Linked DNA regions of Homo sapiens. The protein of the gene in region 2 interacts with the protein of the main gene of each other region in a pairwise test. Each region holds a gene or a part of one and is shown on either strand. Other genes may lie near its edges.

Region 1 (8,539 bases), on a different chromosome or scaffold from region 2:
CAAAGCAGGTGACCCCAGGGGAGGACCAGTGGCTCCAGGGGAGGACCAGCACCGTGGGGGGGCTGTGCCCATGCTCCTGCGTCTCCAGTCAAGGAAGGCGTGGGCCTCCTTCCTCCCGATCCATCCCAGGTGTGCAAGACTGTGTGGCCTTGACATGGGCCAGGGAACAGGGCCCGTCCCCAGGCATAGTCCCGGCTGAGGACACCACTGTCAGCACAGACAGTGCAGCTGAGCCACTAGCACATGGAGTCACCTCTGGCCTTCAAGGCCCAGGTGAGTATCAAGGGGTGTCATCCGGGCCCTCCTCCACCTGGGTCACATGGGTTCATCTGGGATCACCTGTTCCACTTGGGACCACGTGGGTGTCATCCGGGCCCACCTCCTCCACCTGGGGTCACGGGGGCTCATCTGGACCCACCTCGTCCACCTGGGGTCATGTGGGCTCATCTGGACCCACATCATCCACCTAGGACCACCTGGGTGTCTTGAGGCCTGTCCATCTGACCCCAGGGAAGGGAAGCCTGCCCCCTCCTCATGCCTGCACAGGCATCAAGAGTCATGAGCGTACCCATGCCTCTCTCCCCTAAGCCAGCTTGGGGTTTGAAGCCAGAAGAGGGGCCCTTTGTCCACATCCCCTGCTGTAGGGGCAGAAGGTGACAACTGGAGTTGCTGCCCAGATGGGAGGGGCTCACACCTACCTTGGGTGCTGGGACTGCACCTGCCTCCCACAGCAGCACAACCACCAGGCTGGTGACCAGGAGGAGCCTGAGGGGGGGCCAGAGAGGGAAGTGTGAGGTAGGGGAAGGGGACGCCCTGAACTCCAGGCAGCACCCTGATGGGCAGCTGGGAGGCCTGGGCTGGGTTCCTCCTTGGGAGCGCAGGTAGTTTTACTGGACTGTGCTCACATGGGCCAAGACACGCAGGCACAGAACAGGGAGAAGCCCCAGGCCCACCTGCCTCCAGCCCCCCTCAGGCCAGAGCCCACAGCCCCAGCCCCAGACTCTGCTCCTCACAGTCTGGGCAGACCCCACTGTGGCAGGCACTGGTGGTTGGCTTGGAAACTCCAGAGGTTCTGCCATGCCTCTGTGCCGCCCTCCACGTGGGGACACACATGAACACACTTGCACATGGGTGTGGGTATGGGTGGGTATGGAGCAGCGAGGGCCCACAGCCCCACGCCCACAGAGCCCTGAGGCTGCACGCTGCTGCAGGCAGGGCACCTGCTGTGTCCCAGAGCTGCGGGGCCACGGCTGGGGGGCTCAGGGGTGAATGGCAGCACTATTAGGCAGGCAGGCAGGGTGTCAGGTCAGTTCGGACACGGGATGTGTGTGTTTGTGTATGTGGTGGGGGGTGTGCATATGTTGTCTGTGCATGTGTGTTTTGTGGGTGTGGACCATGTGCATGGTGGGTGTGCATGTATGCTGTGGGTGGTGTCGTGTTCGGGTGTGTGTGCACTGTGTGCTTCAGTGTGTGGTGCATGTGTATGTTGTGTGTGGTGCGGAGTGTGTGAGTTCGGGGGTGCGTGTGCTGTGTGTGTATGTTATGTGTGTTTGTGTGTGGTGGATGTGTGTGTATGTTGTGTGTGGTGTGGAGTGTGTGGGCTTGGGTGTGTGTGTGTGCTGTGTGTGCATGTATGTGTTGGATGTGTATGTATGTTGTGTGTGGGGTGGAGCGTAAGGGTTTGGGGGTGGGTGTGTGCTGTGTGCATGCGTGTGTGGTGTGTAGAGTGTGAGGGTTTGGGAGTGTGTCTGTGTGTGCGTGCGTGTGTGATGTGGTGCAGACTTGTCTCTTCAGGGCCCTGCGGGGGAGGCTTGCGTCTGTCAGGGTGGGGTGGTCTTGGGGTGGGGCGGGGCTCTGGGTCTGTACAGGGCTCAGCAGGGCTGCAGTCAAGGGTGTCTGGGGCAGGCGCAGTGGTTCACACCCATAATCCCAGCACTTTGGGAGGCTGAGGTGGGCAGATCACCTGAGGTCAGGAGTTTGAGACCAGCCTGGCCAACATGGCAAAACTCCGTCTCTACTAAAAATATGAAACTGCCTGGGCACGGTGACTCACGCCTGTAATCCCAGCACTTTGGGAGGCTGAGGCAACAGATCACTTGAGGTTAGGCATTCGAAACCAGCCTGGCCAATATGGTGAAAACTTGTCTCTACTAAAAATACAAAAAAAAAAAAAAAAAAATTAGCCAGGCGTGGTGGCAGGTGCCTGTAATCCCAGCTACTTGGGAGGCTGAGGCAGGAGAATCACTTGAACCTGGGAGGTGGAGGTTTCAATGAGCCAAGATGGCGCCACTGCAGTCCCTCCAGCCTGGGCGACAGAGCGAGACACTCTGTCTCAAAAAAAAAAAAACAAAACTTAGCTGGGGGTGGTGGCACACACCTGTAATCGCAGCTACTCCTGCTGAGGCAGAAGAATCAGTGTCTGGGACACCCTGCAGGCCTGGATTGCAGCTCCACAGGGACCTTTGCCCGTTCTCTGGGTGACTCAGCCATGGTGAGAGGTCAAAGGGCAGGGGGGATGCCCCGGACAGCCCGGGGCCGGGACCTGGTCTGGTCTGGTTCGGGGGCCCTGCTTCTCCTCAGGACCCCCAGCTGGTTCTGATGCTGGGCAGGGGCTCTTGTCTGGGCACTGGACCCCAATCCCACTGCCGTGCTGCCTGGGCCACCCCTGGTGCCCACCTCCCATGACACACAGCCTGGGGGCCTGGGATTCGGGTCACGGTAGCCCCTAGAAAGGTGGTCGGTGGTGACTGCCAAGCAGCCTGGCTGTGGGATCCCCGTGGGTCCCCTCTCCAGGCAAACGGCTCTGGGCACCAAAGGGTCCCCAAGCTACCCAGAAGCCACCTCTCTACAAGGGAGAAACACCAGGAGAGGAGGGGCAGGGAGGGCCCTGGCTTAGAGGAGGGGGAAGAGGAGGAGGGCACCTCCACAGGAGCGGGGAGAGGGGTCCCCCACACAAGGAGGGGGAAGACAGACACCCCCACAGAAGGAAGGCAGCCTCTGATTCCAGGGTCCAGCGGGAGCCCGGGTGCTTCCCTGAGCTCCAGATCACAGCTCCCAGGGTGACACCACCTCAGGGCAGCCCCTGGCTCCTGCGCCCCAGCCCCTCCCCTCCCCCAGCCCCCTTCCTTTTGGGCAGTCACAGGCCTGCTGGTTTCAGCCTGGCACCTCCCCTTTCCTTGTTCCGGGTGGGGGTCCCTGGGTGATTCTCCACCAGGCCAGGGGAACCAAGAGGCAAGTGCACTCGGGGCCACAGAGGAGGTAGAGCCTGGTGGCAGACCCCAGACCCTCAGAGGGCCCCTCCTTCTCCCTCCCACCCGCACACTCCCCTGAACCAGGCCCCCTGGAGCGCAGCACAGCTGGGCCCCCTCTGGCTAAGGGCCAGGCCTCCAGGTTTGGGTGGGGTGGGGATTGGGGCTCAGGGATGGTGGCATTACCTCCTCATGTCTGGGGTCCGCGTCTCTGTAGAGAGTGCTCAGGGAGCTGCAGTGGCTGATCCCAGTATCTGGCACCCGGCCCAGCTCCTCCTGCCCAGGCCCAGGCCAATTGGGGCTTTGTTGCTGCCGCTTGGGGCGTGTCAGGACAGAGGTCGGGGCCAGGGATCCCACCCTGGGTAGCTCAGGTGACTGGCTCTGCAGCCGCCCAGCCCACTCGGGCCTGGATCTGAGCGGGGACACCCAGCTGCCTGCTCAGGGCCTGCCACACGACTGAGGAAGAAATTTGCCTTTAAAAACATGCTTGTTGACCGGGCGCGGTGGCTCACACCTGTAATCCCAGCACTTTGGGAGGCTGAGGCAGGTGGATTGCCTGAAGTCAGGGGATTGAGACCAGCCTGGCCAACATAGTGAAACTCCGTCTCTACTAAAAATAAAAAAAATTAAGTGGGCGTGGTGGTGGGCTCCTGTCATTCCAGCTACTCAGGAGGCTGAGGCAGGAGAATTGCTTGAACCTGGGAGGCGGAGGTTGCAGTGAGCCGAGATTGCGCCACTGCAGTCCAGCCTGGGCAACAAAGAGCGAAACTCAGTCAAAAAACAAAACAAAACAAAACAACACCAAAAAAAAAAAACCTGCTTGTCATGAAGGCTGAACCGTGCTCACAACCAAGGCAACTTGGAAGGGTGTCGTGGGCAGCTGTCCCCAGCTCAGCTGAAGCACTTCCTTCCTCAGGTGGGCGTGACAAATCCCCCATCCAGCCCCAGCCCACCTGCCTGTCACACCTGCCCCTGCCCACCACCTGCGGCAGGGCGGGACCAGCTCAGCTCCACCACCGTGGAACCCTCACCCCCAACGCCACCACCTTCCCCACCCCTTCCAGGCGCTCCCTCCTGTCCTTCCTTACTGGGCACACCAGCCTGAGGAGTCTTGCACGCTGTGTGGCCAGGGCCCGCTCCACGGGGCCCAGTGCCCTCATTGCCTTTTTTATTTTATTTTTTTTGAGACAGTCTCACTCTGTCACCCAGGCTGGAGTGCAGTGGCGCGATCTCAGCTCACTGCAACCTCCGCCTCCTGGGTTCCAGTGATTCTCCCGCCTCAGCCTCCTGAGTAGATGGGACTACAGGTGTGCACCAACACGCCCAGCTAATTTTTGTATATTTAATAGAAACGAGGTTTCGCCATGTTGCCCAGGCTGGTCTCGAACTCCTGACCTAAGTGATCCGCCTGCCTCGGGCTCCCAAAGTGCTGGGATTACAGGCATGAGCCACTGCGCCCGGCCCTGACCACCTTCTTTAGCCGTCCCTGGCACACCCTGTAAAACAAAAACACAATTCCAATCTCCGCCTGACCCCACCCGACTGATGGACCCTCCCTAAGCCCAGGGCATTCCACGGTTAACCTGAAAACTAGTTCAGGCCATAATGGGAAGTGGGGGTCAGACAGGCCTCATTGTACCCGCCTCCTTTTGGAATTCAGGCAAAACTGACCAGCATTAACATTAAAACAGAGACCTTAAGACTAATAGAACAGACTCTGACAAGAAATAGTCCCTTTTATTGATTCTATCTGCATATACTTGGTCTCCACAACACCTTATCTTAACCCTGACTTTCCCTTCTATTGATTCTAGGTCTTTAGATAATAACTTAACTCTTTTGACCAATTGTCAATTGGAAAATTACTGAATCCACCAATGACCTGGACACCCGCCGCCTTTCTGGACCAAACCCATGTACATCTCCCACGTACTGAGTGATGTCTCGTGTCCCGAACATGTATCAAACCAGCTGCACCCCAACCCTCTCGGGCCACACATGTTCTCAGGATCTCCTGGGACGGCATCATGGGCCTTCCGTCACTCATATTTGGCTCAGAATCACTCTCCAAGTATTTTACAGGGTTTCACTCTTTTCCTCGACAACCCCCAGCGGGCAGCTACTGTTGGGGGCTCTGAGACCGCCGGCCTGCAGGGTATGGTTCTCCCGAAGCTGCATGTTCAGACACAATTGGAGGCCGTGCTTCCAAGGGGGTGGAGTGAGGGCCCTCAAGAAAGGCCAACTCAGGAATTTCCAACGTGACCCACAGCGTCTGAGCTATTGAGGAGGGGTCACCCGAAGAAGCCGCTGGGCTTGGGTGAGAACAGATGTTCCTCTGGCCTTCTTGCCTGGGGCTGCTCCTGAAACCACCTTTGCGAAAACCTGATAGTGAATCTGACCTAACCGACTCCACCTTGCTTCTAACCTCCAACCTGTCCTTGTTCATTCCTGGGTGTAGGTCACACCAACTTTGGGAGGATCTTAGTTTATAGTTTAATGTTGAAACAAAGATGAAAACAGCCCCTTCCTGAACAAACCCCCTTCTTGCCTGGGGACCAGACTGCCTTTGTAAAACTAACAAATTAGTCACAAGATTAGAAATTATGGTTTAGGAAACTTCTAGTGGCTTGAGGTATCGGCCGGAGCGGCCGGGTGGCGGGAGGAACCGTTACGGGAACTGAAGTTGCCGATTAAGCCTGATCAAGATGCCAACCTCCCAAAAGCACCGAGACTTCAGGGCAGAGCCCATGGGGGAAAAGCTAGTGGGGAGCCTGGCCAGGATTGGTGAAGTCCTGGGCAAGAAGCTGGAGGAAAGGGGCTTTGACAAGGCCTATGTTGTCCTTGGCCAGTTTCTGGTGCTGAGGAAAGATGAAGACCTGTTCCGGGAATGGCCAAAGGACTCGTGGTGCCAACACCAAGCAGTCCCGGGACTTCGGATGCCTTCGAGAGCATGCGATGCCTTCTTGTGATGCTCTCCAGGAAGCTCTCAATCCCCAGCCCTCACCCAGAGTTTGTAGCCGAGTCGGGACTCCTCCCCTGTCCTCTACAAAGGAGAAGATTGCTATTGTCATACTCACGTCTGACGCACTCTGGGTCTTTTGGGAGTTTTCTCCCCTAACCATTTCAACTTTTTTGGACTCTCACTCTTGCATGTCTCCCCCTTCCTTTTTCACTTTCCCTGGTGACAGTTACCAGCTTTCCTGAATGGATTCCTGGCCCCGTCCCTCACCTCCACCCTCACTTTCAGTCCATTTGATACTATTTGGCTCCTTTTTTGGCAGAACAGTCACTGTCCTTGTAAAGTTTTTTAGATCAAGAAAGTCAGTGGCTTTCATGAAAAATAAAAAAGAAATTATGTTTTAGGTGTCAGGCAGGACCGGGCGCGGTGGCTCACGCCTGTAATCCCAGCACTTTGGGAGGCCGAGGCAGGCGGATCACGAGGTCAGGAGATCAAGACCATCCTGGCTAACATGGTGAAACCCCGTCTCTACTAAAAATACAAAAAATTAGCCGGACGTGGTTGCAGGCGCCTGTAGTCCCAGCTATTCGGGAGGCTGAGGCAGGAGAATGGCCTGAACCTGGGAGGCGGAGCTTGCAGTGAGCAGAGATCACGCCATTGCACTCCAGCCTGGGTGACAGAGCGAGACTCCGTCTCAAAAAAAAAAAAAAAAAAAAAAAAAGGAGTCAGGCAGCTGGAGGCCACAAGATTCTAAGCCTCCCCAATTATTCTTAGGGAAAACATCACTATTGTAAATCCTAAGATTGGTGCTCGAGACATTTTTCGGACTCTGAACTTGGTGGAACAGCTGGTGCCACCCAGATCCATGAACTGGCTCACCTGGTCTTGTGGCCCCCACTCAGGAAGTGACTCAGCACAAGAGGACAGATTCGACTCCCTGTGATTTCATCTGCAACCCAACCGATCAGCACTCCCTGCTTCCCAACCCCTACCCACCAAATTATCCTTTAAAATTTGAGTAGTGATAAAGCTCCAGCCTCCCGTTCAGCCGGCTCCGCGTGAATTAAACTTTCCGTGTTGCAGTTTCTCTCTGCCCTGATAAATCGGCTCTCTCTGGGCAGCAAGCAGAATGAGCCTGTTGGGCAGCTACACTCCCACCCACCCCTCAGTGGCCGAGTGGCTCCACGGGGGAGGCAGCAGAAGGCCAGTGGCTCAGGGAACTGGGGTCCCCAAGGGGATTATGAGCAGTGATTGGCAGGCCAGCCCGAACTTGAATGGGGTGATCAGGTCTGGAATGAGAAAGGCACAGGGAGCCTCCCCAGGTTCCCACACAGTCCCAGCTGACCTCCCCATTCCTCTGGCCCAACACAAGTCTGTGCATTCACACTCAGGAGACGGGAGACAGCCGGTGGGAAGTAAAGGTCGGGCACCTTAAAAACTGCATCCACACAGAGCGTGGCCCCCAGCCCACCCTTGAGGCACCAGCAGAGTGGGTCCCGCGGCCTGAGCACAGCCTCCAACCACACAACCCAGTGTGACTCAAGGAAGATAGGCTTAAAAAACTGGGCGGAGACACCAGGCCACGTGCTACAGGGGAAACAAAGTCCACAGATTTCAACAAAACAGCAACAACAACCCTTGGGAGAAAATATCAGAACTCAAAATGTTTGCAATATATTATCTAAAACATCTAGTCTTTAGTAAAATGAGACGAGGTCCCCAGGCTCGTCTCGAACTCCTGGGCTCAAGCAATCCTCCCACTCAGGCCTCCCAAAGTGCTGGGACCACAGGCATGAGCCACTGTGACTAGCCTGTTGTATATTTTAAATTAACAAAAAAGAGTGGAATTAGAATGTTAGCACAAAGAAATGATACAATCTTGGGGTTATGGATACCCCAATTATCCTGGTTTGATCATTACATATGGCATCCGTGTACCCCATGGATATATATACCTATTATGTACCCATAATAATTAAAACTTTTTAAAAATTAAAAATAAAGGGCCAGGTGCAGTGGCTCACGCCTGTAATTCCAGCGCTTTGGGAAGCCGAGGCGGGAGGATCACTCGCGGTCAGGAGTTCGAGACCACCCTGGCCAAAATAGCGAAACCCCGTTTCTACTAAGAATACAAAAATTGGCTGGGTGTGGTGGCAGGCGCCTATAGTCCCAGCTACTAGGGAGGCTGAGGCAGGAGAATCGCTTGAACCCGGGAGGCGGAGGTTGCAGTGAGATGAGACTGCACCACTGCACTCCAGCCTGGTTGACAGAGTGAGACTCCATCTCAAAAAAATAATAATAAAACTAAAAAAAAGAAAGAAAAGGACTTATA
Region 2 (7,581 bases):
ACAGATATTTAGGGGAAAGGTTTCAAGAATTGTGGACTGAGTCTGTCAGACAGGAGCTCATCACAAATGTCAGCAAGGACTCCAACAAATGCTGACTGTATTCCTAAGAACTGATGGCCCTTCTCAAATTTCCACTTCTGTGCAAGAAGTGTTGGTTTTAGAGTCTGACATGCCTGAGTTCAAGTCCAAAGTTTGCTTCTCATTAGTTATGTAATCTTGAGCAAATAATCTCTTAGGGCCCCAGTGTCCTCAGCTGTAAAGCCAGGGCTGTAGTAATCATTCCACAGATTTGCTATGAGAATTAGTACAGGTCAAGTGTGGAAGCTGTGGAAAGGCCTGCGGTGGAGAGGCCCTCAGATGTTGGGTTCTTCTAACTCATGCTACCTTGTTCACGTCACTGGGATTGTCAAAAATAATTCAGCGTTTGAAATGGGGGTAGTTTTTGACCAGAAGGAAGGTATTGAGCAGGTGCATTCAAGTGTTGGTGGGAAGGGTATGAAAATGCATTATAATTTCTTAGTAAAAAGTTACAGAGGACTTGCTAATCATGACATCATTCCCCATCTTTCCCATCTCAAAAAGAAGCAACCCACTGAAAGCAAAGATCACACTACTAATTTTAATAATTCTTTGCTTCTGAGACCCTAGTAAAGGAAAAAATGGAATTATGGCAAGCTGAATAATTTTGCCAAATGTGAATTCTATATATGAAAAACATGGACCAAATCGACATAGAAAAAAATCCAACTTAATCTCATAGGAAAACAATAATATTCACCAATGGAATTGTAGGGACTTGACATTCAGAATTTCTTCACTTTTTCCTAAAGTGTTTCTTACTAAATGACATTAAAAACAGCTCAGGGCTGGGTAGGTCATTATCTTTTCCCAGAAGCAGTGCTTCTTGTTGTCTTCTACTTCTGAAGCACTTTGCTCTGTTAGGTGAATAATTCAGTTAATAAGATAAATCATCCTATGCTGATATTAAAAACTCTCTCAGCAACATATTGCTTTAACTGGACAATCTGTAACTTTGTAAAAGGACTCTCTTAGTAGCCTTGAAGCCTATTCTAAATTATTCTAATAGATAGGAGGGTTTCTATACTGGCCAATAAGTAAAGATATGATATTCCCAGGAATATCTGGTACCTAGGAAACTTCTGGTACCTCTCCACTCTTATTCTAGAGTGTGGTCCTCCCTGCCAGGCAATTTCATTTCCTCTAGGACAGTATAAATGAACAAGCCCCAGTGATTTGCCAGGGAATACATCACAGGTCAATAGCATCATTTAATTATTTTGAGTTCCAGCCTAATTGTGTTTCACATTGCCTGTTCTTTCCTACCACCAAAAGCTACGATGATGATAAACACACTCCATTAATATAAATTGCTTTTTCAGATAATGGAAACTATTTCTGGGACAGGCCTTCTAAAGTGGGAACAGTGGCTTTGTTCTCTAATGGAACTCAGTTTAGAAGAGGTGGGGGCTATGGAACCAGTGCCTTTATAACCCACGAAAGGCTGAAAAGCAGAGATTTTATAAAAGGAGATGATGTTTATATCCTACTGACAGTGGAAGGTATGTCAATAAAAATAGTTTTATATAAACTAGTTTTTTTTTGTTGTGGCCACTGATTATTTTCTGTTTTTCTTTCTGCATTCCACTTTTAGATGTATTATATAGAGATGTGGGGGGAATGGGCATGAATGGGGTTTGGGAGGAATATGAATTATTAACAATATGAAAATAATTTAATTTGAAACAGTGAGGATTCCAGAATAAAGAATTTAATGACCACCACATGAAGCTATAGCGGAAACCTTTAGGTTGGGAAATTTCTTTAGAAATAAGTTAAAATAGGCCGGGCGCAGTGGCTCATGCCTGTAATCCCAGCGCTTTGGGAGACCGAGGCGAGTGGATCACGAGGTCAGGAGATCGAGACCATCCTGGCTAACACGGTGAAACCCTGTCTCTACTAAAAACATAAAAAATTAGCTGGGCGTGGTGGCGGGCGCCTGTAGTCCCAGCTACTCGGGAGGCTGAGGCAGGAGAATGGTGTGAACCCGGGAGGCGGAGCTTGCAGTGAGCCAAGTTCGTGCCACTGCACTCCAGCCTGGGCCAAAGAGCGAGACTCCGTCTCAAAAAAAGAAAAGAAATAAGTTAAAATAGAACTATTATACCCTAGGATTCCTGAAATAAAAATATCACACAAGCACATGAAATTAAATGACTGGAAACGTCTGCATCTTACCTGTTTCAAATGTACATACATGCATACATATATGCATATATATATATATATATATATATATATATATATATATATATATATATATCTTGACAGAAATGACATTAATCTCTTGTTAGACTAATGTTAAATTTCTTACACCTGGCAGCCAATAAATACATTTTGCAGCAATTCTGGTGGTTTCTATTTTTTATGTGGTAGGATTTTAACTCATTTTCTATTAAAGACCCACTTGGATCTCAGTAAATCAGATTCTTGTTTGTGATGAAAGGTGGTGCAATTAAAACCCACAAAATTTTGACTCCAGTGTCCATTAGAGTAAATCTAGATGATACCTCTTGGAGAGATTATTCAGAAATAACTTCTGTTAAGAGAGAAAATATTTTATGTAGCAGAGAACAAAAATCAGTATGCATCAGTTCTCTTTGACCATAGCGATTTCAACCAGAAGCAATAACAAATACTGCAAAGAATGTAACACTGGTTGTCAGGGCACTTGGTGTCTTGCTCCAAATCTCCACCAATTTGCTCTACCAAGCCAGAGACCTGTGACCTTGGGCAATGCCCTCAATTACTTTACATTTCTGAGTTTTGGTTTCCTTATCTGTCTCTTGAAAGTTGGTATCAGTGGCTTGTACCCTTCTGGGCTCCCAGAATCCAGGCCAGCATGTGGTTGAGTTGGAGCCCCAGTAGGCTGGCCTAGTTTCCCTTTGCCTAGTTCTTATCTCGCTGCCTATGAATGTTGCTAGACTGTGCTTCAAGGATACCTGAATTTCTCACAAGCCTAAAATCTGATCATTGTCTATTCTGAAACTTAAGATTGGGCTTGGCATCATGGCTCACGCCTATAATCCCAGGACTCTGAGGCCGGAGTGGAAAGGCTGTCTGAGCCTGGGAGCAAAGACCAGCCTGGGCAACATTGCAAGATCTCACCTCTAAAAAAAAAAAAGAAAGAAAGAAAAAAGGAAAAAAGAAACATTAAAAGAAAATGAAAATTAAAGATCAAATGATTGTTAAACAAAAGCTGATTTCCATCCACACTCTTCCCCATCTTCCTAGACATATCTCACCTCAACTCTACACAAATCCAGCTAACACCAGCCCCTAGTGTTCAAGACCTCTGCTCAAAAACCACCTGTAAAAATGACGGTGTCTGCACTGTTCGAGATGGCAAAGCTGAGTGCAGGTAAGGATGATTTGAAAGAGATCTCTCCATTCTTTGGTTAGAAATTTTATTTCCATAATGTAGGATTAATTACTTAATAGTTCTTATGAATGAAATCAGTTGATTCTCATCTCACAGCCATTCATAGAATTTTTTTTTTATTCTCCTTTTGGGGCTTTGGATAACCTCAAGAACTATCTTTGTGATAGCCAACACAATTTTTTTATGAAAAAAATAGAACTCTATATTCTAATTGTCTGAAAAAGTCCTCATAACAGTCCAGTCATTTTAAGTGTAGCTGCCTCCATTTTCTAGATGAAGATACTGACGTTCTGAGGAGCCCTTGGCCAAGATGTGAATCTGGAGGGTGGCGGGCATGGGACACTGAGAACTAAACTTTCTCTGTTATCTGTGCTATCGGCCTTTCCTAACTTGGAGATACTGTTTTAGTATCAGATTAGGAGGAATTCCATTTTTTCTTTCCATTGTTTATACCTGTGCTCTAGGTGCTAGTCTCTCTCCAGTCCAGAGTGGGTAAAATAGTTTCATATAGCAATGACCTATTGGTGATCAAATAGACTAAAGGTGATCCACATCTTTAACTGTGAAGATTTCTGGAGTTAGATATCAACTAATAACTCTGAGTCATGCTCTCAACATGCAGGTGCCAGTCAGGGGAAGACTGGTGGTACATGGGAGAAAGGTGTGAAAAGAGAGGCTCCACCCGAGACACCATAGTCATTGCTGTTTCATCTACTGTTGCTGTGTTTGCCTTGATGCTGATCATCACCCTTGTCAGTGTCTATTGCACCAGGAAGAAATATCGTGAAAGGATGAGCTCAAATCGACCAAATTTGACTCCGCAAAATGTAAGTTGAGGCTGATGTTTGATTATTCATAACCTATTGGTGAAATCTTATGGAGAGGAACTAGGACATTTTTTATATACTTTGGTTCTTGCCTTCTTCTCTCTGTTTCCTATGCTGGGACAACTGATTTCAGATTATAAAAGTTCCTATTACTTTCACTGTAAATCAACGATTCTTAAACTGGGATTTATGGAGGTTCATTATCCTCCTGGAATTGTATACAACATTGTGTACAGTTGTGTGTGTGGGTTTTTTTCCTGGAGTGTGGGGTGGTCTGTGACCTGAAAGGCACAACTGATTTTGCCTGAAAGTTCAAACCTTCCTGGTAAAGGGAAGAGGTGGCCTGCAAGTGTTTTTGTTCTAAAGGTCTTGTAGTGGTGGTGAGCTGAGGCCATAGGAAGGGGATGCAGGCATGTTTGGGGAAGCTTTTTCATTAAAGAAGGTTCCAGTTCATTCTGGCTTCATGTGGAATAACTAATTCTAAGGCAAGTTTTCAAGTAAAGGATTTAAAGTCTTGCCTCAAAAAATCTCTAGAATGCTAATAGACTCCTGAAACGATCCTGTTTCCAGTGGGTCCCTTGGGAAGCTGACTCTGAGATGGATATTTGTACGCAGGAGGTTTATTGGGGAGGGCTCCTGGAACACGTATAATAGGCTGAGGGAGCTGGCCTGGGCAGAGGGTGAGGTTGGAATGTGATGTGGTTGCAGCTGAGGCCTCAGCCCATCCTTCAGGGAGCTCTGGAGTGGGGATGACTCCCTCTTAGGCACGTCCTGAATCGAGGGAGGGGGCCAGGCCTTTGTACTCCCATCACTGGAAGGGGGCTGCCCTCAAAGAGGGGGCATAAAATTGGGCAAGGCAACGGCCTTTGGGGGAGGGCATTTCTTGCATAACAGCCTTCATTCAAAGGGCAGGACAAAGCAGCAGTTCCCTAGCATCCACTACATACTCCAGCAGTAGAGTACAGAGTTTTACATGCAGATTCATATTCCTCTCAAAGAAGCACAGAGAAAGTGGCATAAAATCTGAGCATTACTTAAAAGTGAAGCCCTAAAATTCTTCCATTTCTATTTCATTCCAATTGGAGTCTCTGAAAATTGCTACTGAAGCCAGTCAGAAAAAATGCCCAATTAGAATATCTCCAAAAATAAAAATACTGCAATTGGCTAAAGCAAGAGTACATTTTCTTAAGAAAAACGATTATTCAAGACATACTATATTTAAAGCTACGAGTTTTTAAAGGGGACAGCCTGGTATCAAGTCAGTCAAAACATGAACAATGATAATGAACTGAAAGCAAATCGTTGTATTATCGTAGGCTGTTGTCCTATTTCCTCAACATCAGGAAGATGTTTAATGCTAATAATAAGGCAATAGATCAATTACTTCACAAAATTATTAGAAAAGTATTTAAAATATAAACAGGTTGTTTTGTTTTAAGACAACTTTCAGCTTATTTTATGACTCAAAATAAAAGGGGAAGATCAGTGAATACTTGGCCTGGTAGGTCAACCTGATGGCAGCTGTGCCTGCAAGTTCGGTCTCCTGGGCCATTGGGATGAGCCAGGAGTTGGTGCATGGAAGGTGGAAGAGTAGAAGGGCAGGAGGGGACAAGTTAACTGGGTGGATGGGATTGCCAGGATATTTCCCTGACAATGAATGGGTAGTGTAACAGCTGTTATAAGCAAGTATAAACTTGCTTAGCAAGTAAAAACTGGAAGGAGTTAAAGAAAAATGACAAAACCAAAGAGAAGAGAAAGAAGGAAGCTAGGAAGCTAAGTCAATAAAGCAGGGAAACCATGACAGTATTAGAGACATGGTAAGGATAGTAAGTGGAAACACACATGCACACACACACACACACACACTCCATAATATTACAACAGAGCTGTTTTGTTTCTGGGTCATTTAAACACATTCCTAAGGACAAGGCAGTTGACTTACATTATCTTAGGCTAGGCATTTCTACAGCTAATTCACTGGTAACAGATCTCCCAGATGTCGTTTAGATCTTAAATCAGAATGACCTTTTTTTCTGAGGCGAATGTATGTGTTCACCCTAATGTTTTAGCATCTGAATAATGTGGGCCCGAAAAGCCAGGGCTCGAAATGGAGACCAGGAGCAGGAGCCATTGCCAGCTAGGAGGGAGGCCAGGAGACTGCTGATGGGGACTTCATTTAAAGACCAGATCATTTTATTATGATTCATTTAAATAGCAGTTTTTAAATTTAGAAATTAAATCATCAATTGTTCTTTCCCCTTTTAGCAGCATGCTTTTTGAAGATTAACTCGACAATATGGCCAGCTAATGAAATTAAAAAGGATTCTTCATCATGGATTTCGCCTAAGTGATATTACAGCCACCTCATTCTTCTAAAAGTGGATATTTTTCTGTAAATAGCTGGAAATATTATAAATCACTATTTTGGTCAAAGTCAAATTGGTGAAATGCTGTTTGTGTTTCCTTCTTTTAAATGAGAGAAAAGCAATTCAGGCTCTTCTGGAAGTATAATATTGTCTAGAAAAAAGGGAGAGCAACAGTTAGAGATGGCTTTTCAAATTACTGATCCTTCCATATGGGGGCCAAGTGTGGTGTCCTCACAAGTGATTCCTTAGAAACCCACTAGAAACACCCAATGGGAATGATCATCCATGCAGAATCACAGCAGTTTCAGTGCCATCCTTTCCCAGCATTGGGAAGGGTAATGAGACAGCTCCCCACTCTCTGTCAATATACATTCTTCTCCAAAACTGGCTACTCTTGTTTTCTTATATAATCCCTTTGGTACATGAGCTTGGTTTAGAATTTGTTTGAGCATACGACTGTAATCAGCAAGAAAACCTTTCACTCTTTGAGTGGCAAGTCTCCAAGTTTTGGATCTCAGGAATCTTTACACTTTAAAAATTACTGAGGATCTCAAATAGGTTACTGAGGATCTCAAATAGATTACGGAGGATCTATTTTGCTTATGAGCAGTTCATTGATTTAAATAAGTGTTTATTAGAAATTCAAACCAGGAAAAACTTAATGTATTTATTAATCACAAAAAATAAGCCCCTTATATGCTAACATAAATATGAAAAGTCGCTATATTTTTCAAAACAGGAGAATATTTAGCAAAGAGAGGGGCATTGGTTTACATTTTTTGGGAAAATCTCTAATGCCTAGCTCAATAGAAGACAGCTGAGTTTTCACAGATGCTTCTGCATTTATTCTGTTGTGATATATTAATTTGTTTGAAGGATGTGAAGAAAATCTAACCTCACACAAATATGTACTTGGAAAAAGGAGGCATAT
Region 3 (7,308 bases), on a different chromosome or scaffold from region 2:
GCCATAGCACGCGGCTCTCAGCTGGGGGATCCTGGTCCCCTCACCATCTCCTCTCCCCCAGTCTAGGGACAGGAAGATGGTTGGCGACGTGACCGGGGCCCAGGCCTATGCCTCCACCGCCAAGTGCCTGAACATCTGGGCCCTGATTTTGGGCATCTTCATGACCATTCTGCTCATCATCATCCCAGTGTTGGTCGTCCAGGCCCAGCGATAGATCAGGAGGCATCATTGAGGCCAGGAGCTCTGCCCGTGACCTGTATCCCACGTACTCTATCTTCCATTCCTCGCCCTGCCCCCAGAGGCCAGGAGCTCTGCCCTTGACCTGTATTCCACTTACTCCACCTTCCATTCCTCGCCCTGTCCCCACAGCCGAGTCCTGCATCAGCCCTTTATCCTCACACGCTTTTCTACAATGGCATTCAATAAAGTGTATATGTTTCTGGTGCTGCTGTGACTTCACCTGGGGAGCGGTCCTGCTGGTTCTGAGATTAAATGTAATGCCAAACGTTCTTGCCTTAGCCACACCAAAGAATTGGGTGTGGCGGCTGCCCGCGGCGAGTGATGGAGACACAGACCAAGAGAAGAAAAAAACTGTAGGTTTTATTGAGCAGAGTGACAGTACAAAGCTTACACAGCATGGAAGGGGTCCGGAGAGGGTAGCCACTGTTGGTTTTGGGTGATTGCCTTTTAATCTCTTTAAGGCGGGAAATACATGTGGTGGGAAGATGTTACCAGAGAGAGAAACAAAGGCAGTAAATTATTTTGTGACATGTCTTAGATTTTGAGGAAAAACAGAATTGCAACTTAGGTTTTATCTAATTTTATCTACTTTATGACCTTGCAGCAGCATGGCAAAAGAGACAGGATTTTACAGGACTTTACAAAGTATGTTCACAAGGAATTGGAATTGGGAGCATAGATAAGGTCCGCTGGTCACAGAAAAAGGGTCTTTTAACATTCCTTTTAGTTTTAGGGGAGGGGGAAGGAAGAGAGGGAGAGAGGACACAGGGAAGCTTACAGCAGAATTTTTGCTGTTTATAGCTTTCTTGGGGAAGGAAACACATGCACAAATCCTGGTGTTAGGAATATTTTAGGCATGTATCTTCAGTACTCTTCATCCAGGACCGAAGTAAGTCCTGATGCAGGAAATGAGTGTTTCACAGCTTTCTGAACCCCTACTCGACCCAGGAAGCCCAGCTGGACCCTCCTTTCATGAGCAGGTTGGTCAGCCCCTGCACTGCCCCTTCCAGCCTCTGTGCATCTCTTGGGGACGGGGCAAGTGCTCAGGCCTTCTGGTTTCGGGCCTCCTGCCGTGAGCAGCAGCTGGATCCAGGACCCTGGGAGGAGTTCCTGTGTCCTGCAGGTCTCAGCTCCTACTCAACGTGGGCTCTTTCCGGGAACGTCAGTGCTGAGTCCGGGACACCCTGGGCCCAAGGCCACGCTCGCGGCCTGTCGGCAATCCAGGCTGTCGGCTCAGGACAGAGGGAAGGGTTAAGCCCCCAGCAGGGCCAGGGAGGGGCAAGGTGGCACCGGCTCCCCAGCTGCTCCCAGGCCCTGCTCTGTGGTGCTGGGGACCTGGCTTTAGTTCCTCGGGGGTGGAGGGGGCACCGCGCTGCCTGCCTCCGAGCTGTCTGGAGCAGCCAGTCCTGCAGATGTGGGCAGCTCAGGGCCCGTGGGAGGGAGGGGGCTTTGTGCCCAGGGCAGCAGCTGAAGGAGCCCCGGGCCTCGCAGCCCCTCCTGGGTGACCAGGTGCTGCTTCGTGGCAGCTGCCCCCTCCCGTCCAGCGGGTATGGGCCCTGCTCCCCCGTGGTGGGGGCGGCGCAGGAGAGTGGAGCGACCCTCATCTAAGTTACCTCTACCCGGGTCTGAGCCCCCGGACAGACACCCCCGCCCCGACCTGGTTACAGCGCCCTTCCCCGGTTCGGTCTCCGGTGTGCGCATGTGGGGTGCCCCATGGGCGGCCGCGGTGGGAGCTGGGGTGGCCATGCGCGCCCCCGCCCCGCCGTCCACCCGCGACTCCAGGTCTGGATCTACTCGCCCTCCCCACCCTTTCCCGCCCCCAGCCCCGGAGCCGCGCTCTCACCCCAGGGGCGGCAAGGGCGATGGACGCGGAGGAAGCGCCCTCTCCCCCTCGGGGGTCTCCCGGAGGCGAGTCCCGAAGGGGGCGAACTCCGAAGTGGGTCCCGGGTGGGAGGCGCGCGGCCCCGCCCGGCGGGGAGGGGGAAGCGGCGGAGGCGGGTGCTCAGCGGCGCCCCTGGCGGCGGCCGGCGCAGGTGCAGGTCCCGGAGGAGGCTCCGCCCGCAGCCCAGACCCCCGCGGGGTGGGCGGGACGCGGACCCTGAGACCCGCAGCGCCGGACCCGGACGGGAGCCCCTCTCCTCCCCCTCGGGCACGTCCCCGGCCGAGCCTTCCCGCCCTCCTCTGGGGCTCCCACCTCCCCTTCACCCGCGGGGGACCCGATTTCCGCGTCTCCTGGGCCCCTCCCTGGGCAGGGGGTCCAGCCGGAATCCAGGAGTGACCTGCTGGAGGACTTGGTGGCCAGGGAGTCACCCTGGGAGCCCGGTCCTGTGACCCCTTAATGGATTCTCTGCGCTCCTGGGCGGGCCCCTTGGTCGCATCGGGGCAGGGGAATCGCAATAAGGAAAGTGTAATTCACGCAGAGCCGGCTGCGGGGGAGACGGGAGTTTTATTATTACTCAAATCCTTCTCCCCAAAAACGTGGGGATCCGAGTTTCGAAGGATGATATGGTGGGTAGGCGGCCAGTGAGTCAGGAGCGCTGACCGGTCCGGTTGGAGATGAAGTCTTGGGGAGTCGAAGCTGTCTTCCCAACCCTAACCCAGCTCCTCGGTGGGGGCCACAGGACCACATGAGCAAGATTGTGGATTTAGGTGGTGCCAGCTGATCCATTGAGTACAGGGTCTGTAAAGTATCTCAAACTCTGATCCTAGGTTCTACAGTAGTGCTGTGATCCCCGGGAGCAATTTAGGGGTGGCGGGGTCAGAATCTTGCATCCTCCAGCCGCGTGACTCCTAAACCATAATTTCTAATCTTGTGGCTAATTTGTTAGTCCTGCAAAGGCAGTCTGGTCCTCAGGTAGGAAGGGGGCTTGTTCAGCCTTGATCTATAAACTGTTTCTCTCCAGATTAGTTTAGGCTAAGCCCAGGGATGAGCAAGGGCAGCTTGGAGGTTAGAAGCCAGGCGGAGTGGGTTAGGGTCAGACCTCCTTCACTGTCATCATATTCTCAGTTATGACTTTTGCAAAGGTGGTTTCAGTTCCATGCCTGCCCCTCAGAATCCTGTCTCCCTCTTGTGCCCTGCAGTTTCTTCCTTCCTAAACTGCCCGTGATTTAAAGAAGCTTCCAAAATACCTTCCACGGGAAATTCAAGCCCCACCCCACTCCGCAGTGATGTGTGGCCTTTGATAGGAGGTCACAGAGCCTTGTGAGGAGTTTGTGTAGGCAGTCCTCGATGTCTCAGAGCACGCTCCATCCACATCCACCCCTGGCTTGCCGGGACCCAGACATAGTTTGGTCTAAGTGGCCTGGGATGTGGCTGGGGCTGGAGGCGGCCTGTTGAGGGGTGGGTGGAGGGTGGGGGGGTTGGTGTGCGATTTGGGGAGGCCCAGCAGGGACTCCAAGCAAGGGCAAGGGCTAGTTCTTTTTTTTTTTTTTTAGCTGCAATGGGTAGGGAGGGGCTGATGGTTTTGGAGCTCGGTGTTTGAGATGTTAAGTCTGCTGATGCTCCTGGCCGAATAAAGGCCAAATAAAGCCCTTTCTTTCCTCAACTCGATGTCTGAGGGTTTTGTCTGTGGCTCGTCCTGCTACAATTTCTAACGTTACCAGTAATTTTAAAGCTAGCTTATTAAAGATTCTACTTAAGTCACATGAACGTGAAAAGCATTTAGGCTTATTATTTAATTTATGAGTACTCTTTAAGTTTAAGCTAAATTTGGTAACTTGTGGCCAAAAACACATAACGAAATATGTGTATGTGCACATATACACACATACACACTCAAGCAAAAGTATGGTTTTACTTCAGAACTCCAGCCATGAGATAGTAATACAAATTCATTGGTTTACACAAACAATAAAAAGAAATGGTTGGATGCAAACAGTGGATTTTATCTCTGTAGAAAAGTAACAGCAGACTTAAAGCAGGCAGAAACGAAAGCAGAAAGAGAACTTAAGAACATTACATTAATAATTGCAGGCCCACCTTTGGGCTCTGATTTTTCCTTTATGTAATTTGCAATTTGTAATTCATGATCCTTGTGCCTGAGGGCTCCCTTCTGCTACTCAGTCTACAATTCCCCGTCCCTGTGAAGGGGCACCCAGGCCTGACAGCCCCAGACTTGGCTTTGCCAACCCTCCAGGTCTCTCCTGCATGGCTAGGACCCAACGCCTAGGTCATCCAGCACTCACCCCAACCAAAGCCATGGGAATTGCTGGGACCCGGAAGGTAGGGGGTGGCACATGTGTGCCCTGTGCTCTGAAGCTGCCCCTACAGGCCCTGGAATCCTCCCCGTGTCTCAACACACTACCCTCTGGGGAGTCAGTTCTCCCCAGAGTCCCCGTTCCTGGGCCTGGAGGGCTGCTTTGGGGCAGGAAACTTTGGCCACCAGGCCTCTGACCTGCACCAGGAGACACTGGGAGGTTTAGTCCCCAAACCCGCACAGAGCAGGACTGCAGCCTGAGGAAAGAGCAAGGATTTCAGGAGAGAGGCCTGCGACAAGTGAGGTGAGGGCTTTTGGGGGATTGTCCTGGCGCCTGGAGTGTGGGGGCCTGGCAGGGGCCCTGAACCGGGACAGTGAGGTCCTGTACTTGCTGGCCTGGGGTGGACAGAACCCAAGCCTGGGTAAAATCCCCAGGGCCCCCTAAACCCAACACTTAGGAAGTCACTAGTCCTGACTTGAGTTTCTGATGAGGAAGCCTCTCTCCTTAGCCTTCAGCCTTTCCTCCCACCCTGCCATAAAGTAATTTGATCCTCAAGAAGTTAAACCACACCTCATTGGTCCCTGGCTAATTCACCAATTTACAAACAGCAGGAAATAGAAACTTAAGAGAAATACACACTTCTGAGAAACTGAAACGACAGGGGAAAGGAGGTCTCACTGAGCACCGTCCCAGCATCCGGACACCACAGCGGCCCTTCGCTCCACGCAGAAAACCACACTTCTCAAACCTTCACTCAACACTTCCTTCCCCAAAGCCAGAAGATGCACAAGGAGGAACATGAGGTGGCTGTGCTGGGGCCACCCCCCAGCACCATCCTTCCAAGGTCCACCGTGATCAACATCCACAGCGAGACCTCCGTGCCCGACCATGTCGTCTGGTCCCTGTTCAACACCCTCTTCTTGAACTGGTGCTGTCTGGGCTTCATAGCATTCGCCTACTCCGTGAAGGTGCGTATGGCCCTGGCGGAAATCCAGGGGGTGCCGGTGAGCCTGGGGCTCCACCTGCCCACATGCTGCCTGGGGTGGGGACTTGTGTGTCCCTGTGACTGTGAGTTTGTGTGCACCTCTGCCCCGTGTGTGCTCACGTCAGTAGCTTTGTCTGTGTGATCTGTGTGTGTGTGTGGCTTTGGGGAATCTGCCCAGTGCAGGTCTAGGAGGAGGCTCCAGGAGGCTGGCTGGCTGGCTCAGAGTCTGTCCCTGGCTATCCATTAGCCCAGAGCAATTCTCCCTATAGCCCAGTAAGAAATTACACCCTCACCTTCCAGACTGGCACCCAGGCTCTCCCAGAAAGTGAGAAGGGAACTCACAGGTGACTTCACCCCATGGTGGGGAGAACAGCCTGTGCTGGGGCCAAGGCAGAAGGAGGATGAGCCCCGAGGCTCCTGGAGAGTCTGAGCCCGGGTGAGGAAGGGGAGGAGGTGGTCCCTGATCTCAGGGCGGGGAGGAGACGGAGCCATAGCACGCGGCTCTCAGCTGGGGGATCCTGGTCCCCTCACCATCTCCTCTCCCCCAGTCTAGGGACAGGAAGATGGTTGGCGACGTGACCGGGGCCCAGGCCTATGCCTCCACCGCCAAGTGCCTGAACATCTGGGCCCTGATTCTGGGCATCCTCATGACCATTGGATTCATCCTGTTACTGGTATTCGGCTCTGTGACAGTCTACCATATTATGTTACAGATAATACAGGAAAAACGGGGTTACTAGTAGCCGCCCATAGCCTGCAACCTTTGCACTCCACTGTGCAATGCTGGCCCTGCACGCTGGGGCTGTTGCCCCTGCCCCCTTGGTCCTGCCCCTAGATACAGCAGTTTATACCCACACACCTGTCTACAGTGTCATTCAATAAAGTGCACGTGCTTGTGATGATGCTGTGACTTCATCTGGAGTGGGGGCCCTGCTGAGGGGTCCCGGCCTAGTCCTGAGACAGCCCAGTGCTCAGCCCCTGCACAGCCGTATCCCTCCTCTGTGAAGCTCTCAGGGGAGCAGGGATATGCTCAGAATCTGCTGGTTTCCGCCTCCTGCTGTGGGCAGCATCTGGACCAGGAACGTGGGGTGGGCATTTCTCTGACACCAAGGTAAGGACACACTGTCCAGAATACCTTTGGGCCAGGACAACCTGCCTCTGAGCTGGCTGGGCAGCTGGTCTTGCAGATGTGTGCACCTTAGGCCCTGTGGGAGGGGCAGGGGCTTTGTTCCTAGGGTAGCAGCTGAAGGAACCTCAGGGCTGCAGCCTCTCCTGGGTGATCCAGGTGTGCTGGATCCTAGCAGCTGCCTCCTCCAGTCCAGCCGGCATCTTCCCTGCTCCCCTGGGGTGGGGGCAGCCAATGGCCCGAGGGTGGGGCGCTCGCGAGGGCCTGGGAGGGCAGCTTCCGACCGGGAGCCCCGCGGGAGCTCGGGAAGAGGGTCCCGCCAGGTGGAGACCCCTCTGGTGCAGCCAGCGAGGGCCCCGGGATCCCGCAGTCTTGAAATGTGACGGGAAGTCCGAGGCATCACGAAGTCGGAGACGCAGGGCGCGTCGTGGGTCCCGGGCGCCGAACGCCAGCTCGCCACGGCCCAGCAGCGCGGCCAGATCCCGGTCCCCACGGGCGTCGGGGGTGCGCGGGCCGCGGGGAGGTGAGAGGCGGGAGCCGAGAAGTTTCCCAGACGGCACCCGCGGGAGCAGAGCTGGTCGGCCTGGCCGCTCCTCGCCGCGGACTCCTCGGGTGCCCGTGGACAGCAGCCCGTGCCAGGCCCGCAGCGGCCTTGGGCCTCTCCTCCTCTGCAGGGGAGACTCCGGCCGCGGGCTCTGGAAAAGGGCAAGACCAGGCACGGCGCAGGTGCTCTCTGTCGGGAGAATGCGGCCACGCGCGG

Evidence for each region. Proteins that work in one complex are often made in the same cells at the same time.
Region 1: the proteins of MEP1B (region 2) and PRAP1 interact in a protein complementation assay, tested with the Homo sapiens proteins (one study listed by IntAct).
Region 3: the proteins of MEP1B (region 2) and IFITM1 interact in a protein complementation assay, tested with the Homo sapiens proteins (one study listed by IntAct).

The regions. Positions count from the first base shown.
Region 1 is NC_000010.11:133,342,321-133,350,859, reverse strand, and holds the start of PRAP1 (proline-rich acidic protein 1 isoform 1 precursor), read right to left. Parts: upstream 3,488-8,539; 5' UTR 3,443-3,487; coding exon 3,435-3,442; intron 766-3,434; coding exon 699-765; intron 1-698. Other genes in the region: ZNF511-PRAP1 readthrough, read right to left, coding at 699-765. UniProt on the Homo sapiens protein: Lipid-binding protein which promotes lipid absorption by facilitating MTTP-mediated lipid transfer (mainly triglycerides and phospholipids) and MTTP-mediated apoB lipoprotein assembly and secretion.
Region 2 is NC_000018.10:32,213,682-32,221,262, forward strand, and holds the end of MEP1B (meprin A subunit beta isoform 1 precursor), read left to right. Parts: intron 1-1,400; coding exon 1,401-1,580; intron 1,581-3,309; coding exon 3,310-3,436; intron 3,437-4,079; coding exon 4,080-4,284; intron 4,285-6,549; coding exon 6,550-6,564; 3' UTR 6,565-6,723; downstream 6,724-7,581. UniProt on the Homo sapiens protein: Membrane metallopeptidase that sheds many membrane-bound proteins. Exhibits a strong preference for acidic amino acids at the P1' position. Known substrates include: FGF19, VGFA, IL1B, IL18, procollagen I and III, E-cadherin, KLK7, gastrin, ADAM10, tenascin-C.
Region 3 is NC_000011.10:308,952-316,259, forward strand, and holds IFITM1 (interferon-induced transmembrane protein 1), read left to right. Parts: upstream 1-5,088; 5' UTR 5,089-5,219; coding exon 5,220-5,405; intron 5,406-5,970; coding exon 5,971-6,162; 3' UTR 6,163-6,321; downstream 6,322-7,308. Other genes in the region: IFITM2 (interferon-induced transmembrane protein 2), read left to right, coding at 62-214.